Homo sapiens: one gene and its partners. The protein of the gene in region 1 purifies or fractionates together with the protein of each later gene. This does not show direct contact. Each region holds a gene or a part of one and is shown in the gene's direction. Other genes may lie near its edges.

The links.
Region 2: the proteins of MN1 (region 1) and PBX1 purify together in Homo sapiens (affinity purification with western blotting; one study listed by BioGRID). This does not show direct contact.
Region 3: the proteins of MN1 (region 1) and MOB2 purify together in Homo sapiens (affinity purification with mass spectrometry, with the first as the bait; one large-scale study listed by BioGRID). This does not show direct contact.
Region 4: the proteins of MN1 (region 1) and TNPO1 purify together in Homo sapiens (affinity purification with mass spectrometry, with the first as the bait; one large-scale study listed by BioGRID). This does not show direct contact.

The regions. Positions count from the first base shown.
Region 1 is NC_000022.11:27,753,257-27,756,756, reverse strand, and holds part of MN1 (transcriptional activator MN1), read left to right. Parts: intron 1-3,500. UniProt on the Homo sapiens protein: Transcriptional activator which specifically regulates expression of TBX22 in the posterior region of the developing palate. Required during later stages of palate development for growth and medial fusion of the palatal shelves.
Region 2 is NC_000001.11:164,806,992-164,810,836, forward strand, and holds part of PBX1 (pre-B-cell leukemia transcription factor 1), read left to right. Parts: intron 1-550; coding exon 551-686; intron 687-3,845. UniProt on the Homo sapiens protein: Transcription factor which binds the DNA sequence 5'-TGATTGAT-3' as part of a heterodimer with HOX proteins such as HOXA1, HOXA5, HOXB7 and HOXB8. Binds to the DNA sequence 5'-TGATTGAC-3' in complex with a nuclear factor which is not a class I HOX protein.
Region 3 is NC_000011.10:1,476,649-1,480,493, reverse strand, and holds part of MOB2 (MOB kinase activator 2), read left to right. Parts: intron 1-7; coding exon 8-101; intron 102-3,845. UniProt on the Homo sapiens protein: Stimulates the autophosphorylation and kinase activity of STK38 and STK38L.
Region 4 is NC_000005.10:72,882,390-72,886,234, forward strand, and holds part of TNPO1 (transportin-1), read left to right. Parts: intron 1-77; coding exon 78-138; intron 139-674; coding exon 675-843; intron 844-3,845. UniProt on the Homo sapiens protein: Functions in nuclear protein import as nuclear transport receptor. Serves as receptor for nuclear localization signals (NLS) in cargo substrates.

The DNA.
Region 1 (3,500 bases):
CAACAACAACAAAAGAATGATAAGTGTCAGAGCAGCTACCCTTTTTTTGACAAAGGGCTCACCTTATGCTGAAGGCTTTCCAGCTGTCATCTCACTTAATCCTCCTAGCAGCCTGCAAGGTAGGTTCTCTTACTCCTCCCGTACTAGAGAAGAGGTGAGCACCTAGCCCGGAGTACCCAGGGAGCCCTTGATATGGGCAGTTGTTGGGCTCTGTCCTTCTTCCCGAATACCCCTGGCTTTCCCTCAGGTAGGCAGCGGGGCAGGAGGTGGCTGGGTCAGAAGTCTCCTTCCCTGGGGCTCAGTGGTGGAACCGTGGCTGGGAGAACCACCGAGGCAGCCCTTTGCCTGGCGTGGGAGGTGGCAGCCACCTCCGCCCGGCTCACGACGCCTGAGCACGTGGCTCACCCACATTGGAACCTGGTCCGCGGATTTTAGTGCAGAGCAGGGTGATGACGAGGCCTGTTTTGCTGACTTCAAAGAAAAAAAGAAAACTCGGCCCCCTCTATGGGTGGGTGGCATCTCTAGAAGCAAAATTTAAAATGCAACATCCCCAGGTAAACGTCCCCTCTTTTCCATTCTCCCTTCACCCCAGGCACAGCCTGCAGAAGGGTCACTCAGCCCTCCCCGGGCCCAGCCCTGCAGGTCCCCACTGTCACCTGCAGGCTGGCCAACAACATTGACAGGCTGTACTCATAGCCAGCGTTGGCAGGAGCGCCCCACGTGCTAAGCGTTTTGCATGGATCATTTCACTTAATTCTCCTAACTGCCTCCATCACGGCCGGTCCTATTATTTCCCCCATTTCCTAGAACCGAGGTTCTGAGAGCTGAAGTGATGTACAAAAGTTCCTTGCTCCACGAATGGTGGCCACTATCATTGTTGAACCCTGTAAGAGAAACGGAGTGAGTTGAGTTATTCACGCAATTGCTTTTTTTGGCACCTGCTCCTGGTTCTCTCCTTCCCTTAATGGAACTGACTGTCTCCATTGTGGATGGAGAAGTTTGGAAGACAGAATCCAACGTGGGTCTCGTGATCGCAGCGGGGTGAGCAGGGGGCAGACTGAACCTCTGCAGTATGATGACCAAATGAAGTGCTGTGGTGTTCAGGGCAGGGGTGACGGGGTAGTAGGAAGAGGCCGGAAGATCAGCGAGGATTTGTGCCATGAAGAAAAGCTGAGGAGTGCTTTTGGGAGGAGAAAGAGCAGGGGTGTCTGTCTCAGCTCTGGGCCTTGACCCTGGGCATGGAGTGTGAGGTGGTTCTTTCTGGCCATAGCTGTCCTTAAAAACTGTCCTGCAGTCTTTCCTTGCTGGGCAGGCATGCCCATCAGTCCCCAAGAACCAGAGGCCCCTGCCCTCGGCCCCCTGTGCTGCCTGAATCGGGTGAGGCACACACAGGGTTATCTGTTTTGAGATGATGTTGCCCCAGCCTCTGGGACTGACCCCCCAACATGCACATGGTATTGCCAGTCTCTCGTGAGGTCTCCCATGCTGCTCTTAGCCGGGCTCAGCAGGAATCACCACCCCCAAGTTGCAGATGAGGAAACTGTGGCTCTGCAGACAGGAGCTGCCCAGATACAGGGCATTTGGGATTCCACCCTGGCCTGAGCAGCTGGGAATCCTGGGCTGAGAGGAGAGAGCCACACCACCAGAGCTGGTGACATGGCCGTGGGTGACCCCTGGGTAGCTCCTGCCCCTTAGAGCCTCAGTCTTCTCGTCTGTCAAATGGGGATGAAGGGCGCTTCACAGTCAGTACACTGGACCCAACTGAGGGCCTGGTGTGTGCAGGGTCGGGGGGTGAACAGACCAAACCTGCCCTTCTCCACATGGCCACAGTCTGATGGGGGAGGCTGACAATCAAGTGGAAAACAGAACAGCACTCACTGGGTCCTGTGATGTCTGCCAGTGCTGGGCGCTGAGTGACTCCATGATCTCCGCCAACCCTGGGAGCTTGGCAAGGGGGTGGTTTTATCTCTGGGTCCTGGCGTGGGGGCTGGCGTGCTTACCGCCTCAAGGAGCGGAGACTGAGGGCCTCTCTTGAGCTGGGGCAGGCCATGACTTGAGGCGGCTTCCGTGGGACTGATTTATCGGCAGCGACTCGGCAGCCCTGGGGAGCCGCGGTCTGAGGGCGTGTTAGGTCCCCCTAGCTGGAATGAATCCAGCGGGAGGATGAGTTTGGTCATGCTTGGGTTGTCAAGAACTGAAGAATAATATTCTCTCTTAAAAATATTCCCTGTGGATACCAGACTGGTTGGCTCTCTTTCTCATTCTAGGCGGAGGCTGGGGAATCCTGCACCCATGCTCTGTGACATCTGGCAAGGCTCTCACCCTCTCTGAGCCCAGGGTGGCCCTGCTGGGGTGGGGAGAAGGGGCACCCCCACTGATGGGCTTGCTGGGTGATGGGCTTAGATAATACACAGAAGTGTTCAGTTGTGTGCCTGGGATGCCCTCATTAAATCCACCCCTAATAAGAACAGCAATGGTTTCTGGCGTTAGTGCACGGCACGCTTATGGCTGTAACTTGGGGATGAAAGCGTCTTTCGAAAATTTGGCCATTTGGGTCTGTCTTACCCATCACTTGGCAGACCCAGCTTCCTCTGCCCGGTGTGTTGCTCAGGAATTTTCTTTCACTTTCTGGGTGTTTGCAGCCCCAGAGCAAAGAGTTTATCTCTCCTTTGGCAAGGAGCTTCATCCCTCGGAGTTTGTTTCCTCATCTGTAAAGTGGGCTCAAGCATTGCTACGTTCATTCCTTGAGATAATTTGTGCAAAGTGGGGGAAATAACCCCCTTTCAGATTTTCTCTCTTTCTCTCTCTCTGTGGCAGGTACTACTTCCCTCACCCCACCCCAGTCCAGATCTTGCAGTGCTTGGAATAAAATTCCTTTGGAGATATTAAGCAGGGTAGGGTGGAGGGGTCGCTGGGAACAAGGCAAGCATGGGTTCAAGAGCAAAGGTTGGGGCACTGTGCCTCAGTATTGCCAGAATCCAGGGCCTGCCATGTTCCTAGAAACCCTGCATCTGATGCCTTAAGCTTCCTGGTGTACCTTCTCCCCAGGAAGCCCTGGGTGGGGTATTAACAACATCCAGATTTCACCACTACTAACTAGCTTTGAAACCTTGGATTCAGAACCTCAGTTTCTCCTTCTGTGAAATGGGGCAAAGGCTCCTGTTTCATGGGCAGGAACACGCCCACCTAGCTGGGCCCCAGGAAGTAGTGGGGCTTTAGGGGATTCTAAGTGGCTGCAAAGCCCCCCTCACCCCCGACCCTCCCAGATATGAATGACAGTCCCAGCAGCACTGTTTGGGGGACTGTCTGTGTGCCAGGCCATTACAAGGCCCCAGGGGAGATGACATCATCCCCATTTCACCCATGGGGAAACTGAGGTCCAGAGAGGGAACATGGTAGAGCCTTGGCCACACAGTAGTGGGGCTGTGACTTCAAAGTGACCGTGCTTTGGTCACAAAGAGACACTGTTTCCTGGCCTCACCATCAGCTCCAGGAGGAGG
Region 2 (3,845 bases), on another chromosome or scaffold:
CTCATGCCTGTAATCCCAGCACTTTGGGAGGCTGAGGCAGGCAGATCATGAGGTCGGGAGTTAGAGACCAGCCTGGCCAATATGATGAAACCCCATCTCTACTAAAAATACAAAAATTAGCTGGGTGTTGTGGCACGTGCCTGTAATCCCAGCTACTCAAGAGGCTGAGACAGGAGAATCACTTGAACCCAGGAGGTGGAGGTTCCAGTGAGCCAAGATCACACCACTGCACTCCAGCCTGGGTGACAGAGTGAAACTCCATCTCAAAAAAACAAACCAAGATGGCCCGAATTTTGAAACTTTATACTCCTCACTACTCTGCAAAAATATCTGTGACCACTCTTCTGTTCGGTGCCCAGATGGTACACAATGAAGTATTGAGCAAATGCTTTTAGCGTTGGTTTTGGCATCCAGCCCCTTTTGGTAAATCTGCTCCAAATTCACCTTTTGCTCAAAAATTTGTCTTCTCCCAGAAGTAGATTTATTCTCTCCCATTTTATATTTATTTGGTGTGAGCCTTTTTGTTATTATTTCCTTTCTCTTTACAAAGGCGGAAGAGACGGAATTTCAACAAGCAAGCGACAGAAATCCTGAATGAATATTTCTATTCCCATCTCAGCAACCCTTACCCCAGTGAGGAAGCCAAAGAGGAGTTAGCCAAGAAGTGTGGCATCACAGTCTCCCAGGTAAGCAGCACCTCAAAAGCCTCAGCCTGTAGCCTGGCCATGGCGGGGCCTCCGGGGCAGGCTCTTAGAGGTCTTGCTTTACTGGACATTCATGCCTTGCAAGTTCCATCAGCTATAGCCTTAAAATATCAAGGTAAGCACTTGATGTGTATGCGTATAAGTGAGTTTCTAGGTAAGTACTTGGCAAAACTTGAGAAGAACCAGCAGAAGGAAGAGAAGAATAAGTAGAGTACAATGTAAAAACAGGATTAGGGTTCTTCCCATCGAGCACTCCTTTGCTTCAAATGGGTGAGGTGTCTAAAGTGTACTAGGAAAGTTATCTGCATTCCTCATGCTGTTTTTTCAAATTCAGTCAATTCCTTAGCCATTTTTTGCCCAACCCAGGAACTTTAAGAGTCAGTGAATGGAACTAGTTGTTATATAGCCTTTTAAATGAAAGAACTTAAATGTCTCCTCTTGATGTGCTGACTCTATAACTGATGGGAGTGTAGGAATTTTAACATGTCACTGCGATTACATTGGAATGGTGAACAAAATGTCACTGAATGCCCCCTTCCCCCAAAGAGCAATAACCATAACAGGTGGTGTCTGATGACTTGGAAAGATACATGACATAAAATTTTTATAGGCCTAGAGTTTTCAACACGAATATGAAGCAGAGAAGTAGGCAATAATTATGTGTACGTGTATTTTGTCCACTCAAAAGATCCACCCAAACTTCTTATTCAGTCTGAACCTCAAATACCACCACTGGTTTCTAATTGAGAACCATAGTGATAATTCTGAAATCTATCGGAGAAGGTTTTTCTTAGAATTTTGTCACATGCAGGAGAATTAAATGTACTGATATTTCCATTAAAACTGGGGAGGGGAGGGAGTAGTGAAGGCTACTGTAGCGAGAAATTTCACTTACCATTTTTCAAATGAAGTAGATGCTCTTTTATATAAACTAAGCATCTGTACCTCCTTGAATTGAATCCTGACTTCTGTTAATCCCTGCAGGGTGCTGATCCCATCAACCTGTGTTTAGCTGTACAGAATTAGGTCCAGTCAGAATATAGAGCTCCACAAAAGTATTGACAATGAAGGGACTGTCCAAGCCTTCCCAACAAACTAAGATGATTTTACAGCAGCAAATATCCTTGAAAACATTCTTTCAGATAAAGCAGAATGAATTGACTCCTTTTTAACCTGGGCCTTCCTTAGGTGCTTTGACCCAGCTGGAGGTCATTTTTAGTCTTGACAGTTCTGGGAAACGGGAACGTCAGCGGTCAAACTCAAGTAGCCTAGTTTTTTCTAGGGCTGTCACCATTCTTATCCAAATCTAAACCCCTTTTCCACAAAAAAGGGAATTAATGCTTTTTGATACTTGCTACATGTTTGAGGAATGCTTCTAGGTATGGACCACAAATATGCAGCAAATATCAAATCACTGAATTTTATCATGGAACCTTCTGCTTTTAAAATATAATTAAATTACTACTGTCTGAATTCCAAGTGTGGAATTCAGAATTTCAACTTCCTGTTGAAGGTAAAAGGAATTCTCCTGGAGGTAATTTGTAGTATAGCTGGATACAAGTTAAAATCCTGATCTGTTCCCGCAACCTTCACTTCCTTCATTATGGAAACTCAAGGTACAAATAGTGTGTCCATTAAAATCCTTATTTACATATTGTGTCACCTTTCCCTTTCCTCTGTCCATGCCAAAGTCATGCCATTCTTTCTTCCCCATCACATCTGTCTCTCCCCAAAGCAACTAAGCTACCATTGCTAAACAAGTCCAATGGAAGACAGTATAATATGATGTCATAGAAGGAGCATTAAGCAAGGAGCCTATTTTTGACAAGAGTCAACTGTGGGATCCTAGGGAACTCACTCTTTCTTTTTGGATCTTAGTTGCCCCATTTACTAATCATGGTTTGTTGGATCACATGATTTATTAAATCTTTCTCCTAATTCCCAAAGCCAGGGAATACCTCTTGGGCTGTATCATTATTGTCTTTTTTTGAAGTCACAAATTCTTTTGAAATCTACTAAAAGCTATTGATTTCCCCCATGACCCAAAACAAAGATATGTTGCCCATACACCCAAATCCATCTGAAATCCGCCTATTGACTGTATCTCCTCAGATCCCTAAAGAGCCCTTTTTCTATACCAGAGCTACTCTAAGTGTGATCCACAGAATGCAGCATCAGCATCCCCTGGGAGCCTGTTAGAAATATAAATTCTTGAGTGTCACCCTAATTCTGAATCAGAATCTTTGAGGGTGAAATCTATAATAGAAATTTGTTTTAACAACTTCCCCATGAACACTTAACTTTGAAAAGCAATGTTCTATATGCTTTATCTGAGTGATCTTTTCCATGCTCACAGCTACAAATAATACCTCCATTTGAATACCTAATGGAACTTCTCCCCTGCAGCACCAAACTCATAAATTTTACTTCCTAATGGACTTCATCATGGCTCTGCCCAGAGGTTCTTCAAAATTAACTTGTTCAAAATGTGAATCAAACTCTTCCCATAAAACCTACTATTCTTTCTGTATTTCATGTCTCATTCTGTGTCTGTTATCTATACATCCCTAGTGCCTAACGCGTATTAGGCCCTTAGTCCATGACTGTTGAGTAATTAGTTCATTCATGATAACACTCATTTTATACATTGTCCAGATCATTGTCTGTTGGACAATGCAGGAAGTCCCTGAACTGACCTAGCACCTTCCTACCAGTTCCATTGTTGTCATTTAGAAGGGTATCATTCCCACAACATGTCCCCTCTTTACCCCCTTCAGCTCATATTTTTTTTACATATAATTGGACCTCAGGTATTTCTTCTTCAAAAGTCCTCTGAAATTATCTTCATCTTTTTCCCTTTTCTTTCAGCTTGTGCAGTTATCTGAGAAAAAAAATCTCCTTACCTTTTTTCTTCTTTTCCTATCCCATAAATCAAAAAGCAACCATAATTATGACTGATTCCTATGAATAGTGAAAGTTATGTCAAGAAAAACATAAATTTCAAAGTGAAACTAGATATGCAGTGATCCTGAAATACACCCAAAAGTGTCCTTCCTCCTCCAGTTTACCTCTTTTTCTGTAGACATCAGTGTTTACAATAAATAAAGCATTTTCTTATTGAATTTTTTTCTTTTTTGTTTA
Region 3 (3,845 bases), on another chromosome or scaffold:
CTTCCAGCCACGACGTTTTTCCACCACATCAACCTGCAGTATAGCACCATCTCCGAGTTCTGCACAGGAGAGACGTGTCAGACGATGGCCGTGTGCAACACGTGAGTGCTGCCTGGCTACAGCCCACTTTCTCTTGGGAGACTCGGTGGGGCTCTGAGCCCCCGCTGCCCCAGGCTCCTGTCCTCTCAGATTCCGTTCTCACCTGGAGACCCTGAGAAGTCTTGGCACAGGCCTTCCACAACATCCACCTTCCTGTGGAAAGGCCACAGGCTGGGCCAGTGGCCCAGCTACCCAGGTCCCCAGTGGGGCCCAGAAGGTGCAGGAGCTGGTGGGGGTTGATGGGCTATGTTTCTAGGGACAGAGACGTTTCCAGAAGGAATGCCCTAAGATTGCAGAGAGCCCTTCTCCGCTGGCTCCCGTGACAGCTCTGGATGGGACAGTGAGGGCTGGGCTGGGCAGGCCACAGGTCCTTGCTCGGCCATTCATTTCATGGGGGCTCAGTTACCTTCTCCGTGACCATCCAACATGCCTGGTGCTGGTAGCTCTCTCCTGGAAGCACTGCACCCTGATTTCCTCAGTAAATGGGTGTCCGTTAGTGGCCCTGAGCACCTCACTTGCGTAGCATGGGAAGGAGCGCCGCCAGGCCTGGGTTGCTGAAAGCAGCCTTGGAGGCTGCAGGCAGGAGGAGGCTGGGTCTGCTGGGCTTAGCCTGGGACATGTGCGGCTGAGGAGGGCGGAAGCTTTTCCCTGATGTCCCGTTGTTGTCAGTGCACACAGGTCAGGGACAGAATGTGTGCCTGTGAGTGCGTCCTGAAAGTCATCCTGCCCACAGACATGGCTTTCCTGGCCCTGGCACAGGGAGACGTGGTCCCCAGACAAAGCTGAGTTCTGCCTTCAAGAAGCCAAGGGGAGCTTCTGCACAGGCAGCTGGCAGGCGTCCCCTTGGCTTCAGTCCTGCTGGGCCCTGCCCTCATGGCCATGATGGGTCACAGCTTGGTTTGGTTATGGGTGACACCGGGGCAGGTACAGACAACAGCTGGCTTCACTGTCTTAATTCCCCAGGAAAATGAGGTGTCACAGCCAGGCATGGCCCAGGAAGATGGGGACAGTGCTTATGGCTTTGAGGGGAGCAAGCTCAATGTGAGACGGCGGTGGCCTCCATGGATCAGGCATGGAGATGGGTCCTGAGGTGGCAGGGCAGCACCCGAGAGCTACTCGAGAGCCTTGTGTCCACTGTGGCTCTGGAGCCACCTGTGGCCAAGTGCTGGCTCAGCGCCTCTGCTCCTGGGCAGACGGGGCCTGGCACCCTTCCCAGAGGCTCTGCTCCTGCATGTTCTGTGGTACTGGGTTGGTTTGGAAAAGGGGTCCTTGGAGGAGTGTAGGATGTGGTGTTGGGCAGACCTATGTCCCCTTGGAGGGCCTAGGCCACCCAGATTTGCCTCTTGGTCCTTCTCATCTGGAGCTGGCATCATGGTGGTAGTAGATGTGTGTGAATTAATTGCATGTAATGCCTTTCCAGGAATCCTTTCAAACCAAGGGACAGAAATCCACTCAAACTAAGAGAAACATGGAGACTTCTCAGAGGGCCTCAGGGCCACTTGCCACCCAAAAGACCAGCAAGTCTGCCTGGGTCGTGTGAGGGCTCTGGGATTGAGGCGCGTCTCCTCCCTGCTAGGGCCTGTAGGACAGTCCCAAAAAGGCTGATGTCTGACTCCTAGGGAGACGAGAAAGGGGGCGGGGCCGGAAACACATTGCAGCAATAATGGCTGAGAACTTCCCACAAAGACACAAACCTGCAGACTTAAGAAGCTAAGCAAACCCCAAATAAGGCTCACAGACACGTGCAGATGCATGCAACCAAATGCTGAGAACTGGGGGCAAAGAAAAAGCCCTTGGCAGCCATCCTCTGTCAGCAGTCAGACGGCGGTGGCCTGGTACTGACAACAGATGCCGCAGTGAATGACCGTGGCACTTTTAGAAACCCAGGAGGCCAGAAGGAAGAAGGAAGCCCCACACATCTTCCAGTGCTGGGAGAAAAGAAAGGTCATCCCAGAATTCCACATCCAGTCAGTGTCCAAAGTCACTCAAAACCAAGAGCCCTCACAGCCAGCAGACCTGTTCCAGAGGCTCCCTGCAGAGTTCTCCCAACAGGAGGGCCTCCTCCCACTGAGTGTTTGTGGAGACGCCAGTGATGGTGCAAGAAGACAAGAGTAGTGTCCGGCAGTGCCTGTGCAGTGCCGTTCCCAGGGCGGCCGTGGGGCCTGTGCAGTGCCATTTCCAGGGCGGCCGTGGGGCCTGTGGTGGCGGTGGGGCTGTGGCGGCTGTGGGGCCTGGCGGCGGTGGGGCTGTGGGCAAGAGAGCTGCTATGCTCCAGTGGAAGCACATGTGTGGGTGCCATGGAGAGCATGTGGGGTTGAGTTGCGTGTTACAGCCCTTTGAGCAGGCCTTGCAGAGCTTATGTGAAGAGACGCAGTCAGAATCAGAATAGGTAAATTTAAATGAAATACAAAAACATTTCAGTGGCCCAAGAGAAAGCAGGAAAGAAGAAATACCATAAGGAATGAGAAACAGAGGCAACAAACAGCAAATAGTGGAAAACCTAAATGCTAACAGATGAACAGACGGGACTGGGCAGCTTATGAGAATGTATTTTTAAAATAACCAACTCTCTGGTGTTTACAAGAAGCTCATTTGTTGTATTTCATTCGGGATGCTGTCACGAAACATGATAGGCTAGGTGGCTTGTGAACAACAGAATCTTATTTCTTGCGGTTCTGGAAGCTGAAAGTCCAAGGTGAAGATCCACTGTGGACCAGGAAGGGGGCACTGACCACGTCACTGGATCTGATTAGCCAGATTCAGTGTCTGGTGAGGGTCCCTTTCCTGGTCCACAGACAGCACCTTCTTGCTGGAAGGAAGGCAGGGCGACGGAGCCACCAGTTCTGTTCATGAGCGTTCTACCCTTGCAACCTCATCGCCTCCCAAAGGCCCCATCTCCAGATACCCTTGCGTCTGGGGTTAAGCTTTCAACATAGGAATGTGGGGCATAAGCACCCTGTGTGTCACACCACTCTAGGTGCTGTGGTGCAGGCGGGTGAGAAGTAAGAGGACAAGATGTGCTGAGAAAACACCCATCAGAAGGAAGCGGAAGTGGCTATGTCAGTGCCAAAGGAGACTCCGAGGAAGGAAGTGACCAGGAATAAGAAGGTTATCTAATTAGAAAAGGAGCAGCTCTTGAAGAAATCCTGCCATAAATGTGTGTGCGCCAGACAACAGGGCTTTCCACACAAAGCAAACGGACGGCCTGTGTAGAAATCACATGATCGCCGGGGATTGCAGCCCTCTCCTCAGTGATGGAGCCTCATAGACAGTCAGCGAGAGCACGGAGCCCGATGACCCCACCCGTGGGTTGGATTGAAATGACACATGCACTGCAGCCTCAACAGCAGAACACCCATCTTTTCAACTTCACAAAGATTAGCCACCAAGATGGAGCATACCTGTCACAAAAGAGCCCTTAACAAATTTTAAAAAATCAAAACCATACGAAGTAAGTTTTCTGACCATGGTGGGGTTAAATTAGAAATCAGTAACAGAGAACAGGAAAGTCTCCAAACACTTGCAGACTAATACAATTCTGAGTAGTCCATGGGTCCGAGAGGATGCCTCAACAAAAAAACTTTAACAAACTGTACACAGGAAAATACAGCATGTCAGAATTTGTGAGACATAACTCAAGCAGTGCCTAGAGGGGATTTATAGGATTAATGCTTTCTTAGAAAAAGAAGATGACTTTCAGTAATCTACGTTTCCAACTTAAACTAGAAAAAGAGCAAAATAAGTCA
Region 4 (3,845 bases), on another chromosome or scaffold:
TACATGTAAGGTTAAGACTTATTAATTATTCTCTTGAGATCTTAAGGTCTTTGTTTCATGAATTTCTTTCTTTATAGGTTGATTCCTGTGTTAGTGAATGGCATGAAGTACTCAGACATAGATATTATCCTACTTAAGGTAAGGAAGCTTTTTTGATGAATAGGGAACAAGATTTTTATATTGACTTAGTACATCTTTGGATTTGGCCAATAAAACATTCATTGAGAATAGATCTCCTGTAAATAGACTTCCTATTATCCATAATAGGATAGAAGCATAAGTTTAAGTAATGATAAATTCTTGCTTAATTTGGTACTAGATGGTGACATTGGTAGGGTTATTATTAATTTCCCCTTAATTACTTGGAGTTATTTTAAAAACATTCTTATATATGCTGCTCTGAATTTGATTCAGGTAACTTAGATTATACCAGCCAGTGGAGGCCATGTAGTTGGCTGAAAGGGCCGTATAACCTAACAGGTGTGTTAGGTCAGTCTATTCGCCCCTCCATAAGGAATATGTTCTGTACATGGGCGTGGTTCTTAATCACTCTGGAAGTATATTTCAGAATTCTGTGCATGACCCCATCTCTGGATATTCTGTTTCTCTTACTCATGTACATACTATTAGCCTATAATGAATGCCACCAAAAATTTCTCTTAAAAAAACAACAGGGTGATGTTGAAGAAGACGAAACGATTCCTGATAGTGAACAGGATATACGGCCACGTTTTCACCGATCGAGGACGGTGGCTCAGCAGCATGATGAAGATGGAATTGAAGAGGAAGATGATGATGATGATGAAATTGATGATGATGATACAATTTCTGACTGGAATCTAAGTAAGTCAGAAAGGGAAAAGCACAGTTGCCTACTTTGATGATAACTTTATTGGGGTATAATTCATCTACTGTACAGTTTACTACCCATTAAAGTATACATTTCATTGGTTTTTAGTATATTCAGAGAGCTGTTCAACCATTACCACAATCAGTTGTAGACTATGTTTTCATCACCCATACCCTTTAGCAGTAACTCCCTATTGTTCACTGGCTCTGGGCAACTACTAGTCAATATTCTGTCTCTGGGTTTGCCTATTCTAGACATTTCATGTAAATGGAGTCATACAATGCATTGTCCTTTGTGACCATCTTCTTTAACTTAGCATAAAGTTTTCACGGTTCATTTTGTAGCATTCACTTGTATTGTGAAATAATATTTCATTGTAATATGCCACATATTCTCCATTCATTGGTTGGTGGACATTTGTGTTTCTCTTTTTGTAGCTGTTGAGTTGTGATGCTATAAATACTCATGTATAATTTTTGTGTGTAGACTTTTTTTGTTTGTTTGTTTGTTTTTTTGTTTTGAGGCAGGGTCTCTGTCACCCAGGCTAGCATGATTATGCAGTGGCGCAGTCATGGCCCACCGCAGCCTTGACCTCCCTGGGCTCTGGTGATCCTCCCACCTCAGCTCCCCAAGTAGCTGGGACTACAGGTGCTCACCAATACACCTGGATGAATTTTTGTTTTTTTTTTTTTGGTAGAGACAGTTTTGCCATGTTGCCCAGGCTGGTCTTGAACTGTTGGGCTCAAGCGATCCACCCGCCTTGCCCTCCCAAAGTGCTAGGATTACAGGCGTAAGCCACTGTGTCTGGCCCAATGTGTATTCAGTTCTCTTGGGTAAACACTCAGGAGAAGGATTGTTGGGGTCATATGGTAACTGTATGTTTAACCTTTTGAGAAATAACCAGGATGTTTTCCAAAGTGACTGCACCATTCTGCTTTCCTAGCAGCATTGTCTGGAGGGTTCCAGTTTCTTCACATGCTCACTTGCTTTATTATCTCTTTATTATTATAGTCATTCTAGTGGACGTGAAGTGGTATTTTGTGGTTTTGGTTTGCATTTTCCTGGTGGACCTGCTCTTATTTTATCATTATTATATTCTTAAACTACCATTTCTCAAAAGGCTGTTTGTTTTAATACTGTAAGAACATTGCCACAAGCTTTTTTGGTTTTTCTAACATGAGTGTTTTCTGTCTGGTAATTTGCATGAAAATTGGCTATCATAGGTAATTCTAAAATAATATAAGTTGCTTTATTATATTCAAATTTATTATAAGTTGCTTTGTTATAGTCAAAATTTATGAAATATGCTTCTTAAAATATGTTAATTTCCAACCTTAGCTGCAAATCATATCACCTGTGGAGCTAGCATTCTGGCCCACGCTTCCTAATTGGGGATGAACCTAAACACCTGTGTTCTGATTTTGCTTGCTTGTTTGCTGGATTTTAAACCTCTACTGCTCTAGTTCAGGGTTTCTCAGCCTTGGCACTATTGGCATTTTGGGCCACATAATTCTTTTTTTTTTTCTACATGTGAATGCCACATCATGCATGTAATTCTTTGTTGCGGAGGCTGTCCTGCACGTTGTGGGATGTTAAGCAGCATCCCTGGCCTCTACCCAAAGATGCCAGCAGCACAAACACAGTTGTGACAACCGTTATCTCCTGGGGGAACAAAATCAACCCCAGTTTAGAGCCACTACTCTAGTTCAAAGTGTTGGGATTTCTAATAACTATGATTAAAGCAGTTAAGAACAGACATTATCAGTCTGGGCTGTGTTCTTCATTTGGTTAGATAATGCTAATTTCTCTGTTGCCTCTTCAGTTTCCTGTAACTAACATTCTATTTAGAGTGCCTAATGTGCCAGGCACTAGGCCAAGGACTTTGCATGCATATCAAAGTCTGTTTAATCATAAGTAAGAATAAAGTCATATTTAACATTTCCAACAACCTTGAATAGGCAAGAAAACTGCAGAAAGAGAGATATACCCAAGGTTAGCATAGCTAGTACTGATAGCACATCTAGTACTGGGACCCAAGTCTCACTTGTTAAGACAACACATGGTGTTTACTACTATTACAAATTACTTCCCAGTGTATCCCTACTTTCAGATTAGGGGAGCAGGATGGCTCAAGATCATTACACAGAAAACTCTACAAAATAATATACATACATGGATGGGGGAACACTTCCTCTTCACATCCCATTCTTTGTATCCTTCCAAAAGCTTTTCTGTGCGTGCTTGGGAAAACATACAGGCATCTTTTTTAGAGGAGAAGCCAGTTTTCTAAAAGTGAAATCAGATTATATGTACTCTGCTGCTTTCTTTCTGTGTATCGTATGCCTCATTCTTCCTCAGTACATACAGATTTAGATTTCCTTTTGTTGCATGTCAGTGTACTGTTTAGTTGTATGGCTCTACCATGTGGTATAACTAAGATCCTTATTGATGGGTAAGGTGTTAATTTCTGGCCAATGTAATGGTTTTGTTTTGGTTTGGTTTGGTTTTTTTTTTTTTTTTTGAGGATTTTATTATTGTCTAGTAGTTTGTGATTAGCCATTTACTATGCCTAGTTCACGTTGGAAATTTCTGATATTTTCTTAGTCCATTTTGTACTACTATAACAGGATACCTGAAGTTCAGAATGGAGGGGCTGCATCTGGTGAGAACCTCCTTGCAACATCATCTGATGACAGAAGGACACACTTAAGAGCTCAATTCACGCTTATAATAAGCCAACTCTCTTGATAACTAACCCACTCCTACAGTAACGACATTAACCCATTTATGAGGGCAGAACCCTTAAGACCTAATCATCTCTTGATAGGCCCCACCTCCCATCTTCGTTGCTTTAGGGATTAGGTTTCTAATACATGAACTTCAGGAACACGTTCCTACCCATAACAGTTAAATGATATTTTTGTTGTTCTTTTTGATTTTGTTGCTCTTGTCTAAATTATTATTATAATAAAATCTGGGTTGATTTATAGTCCCA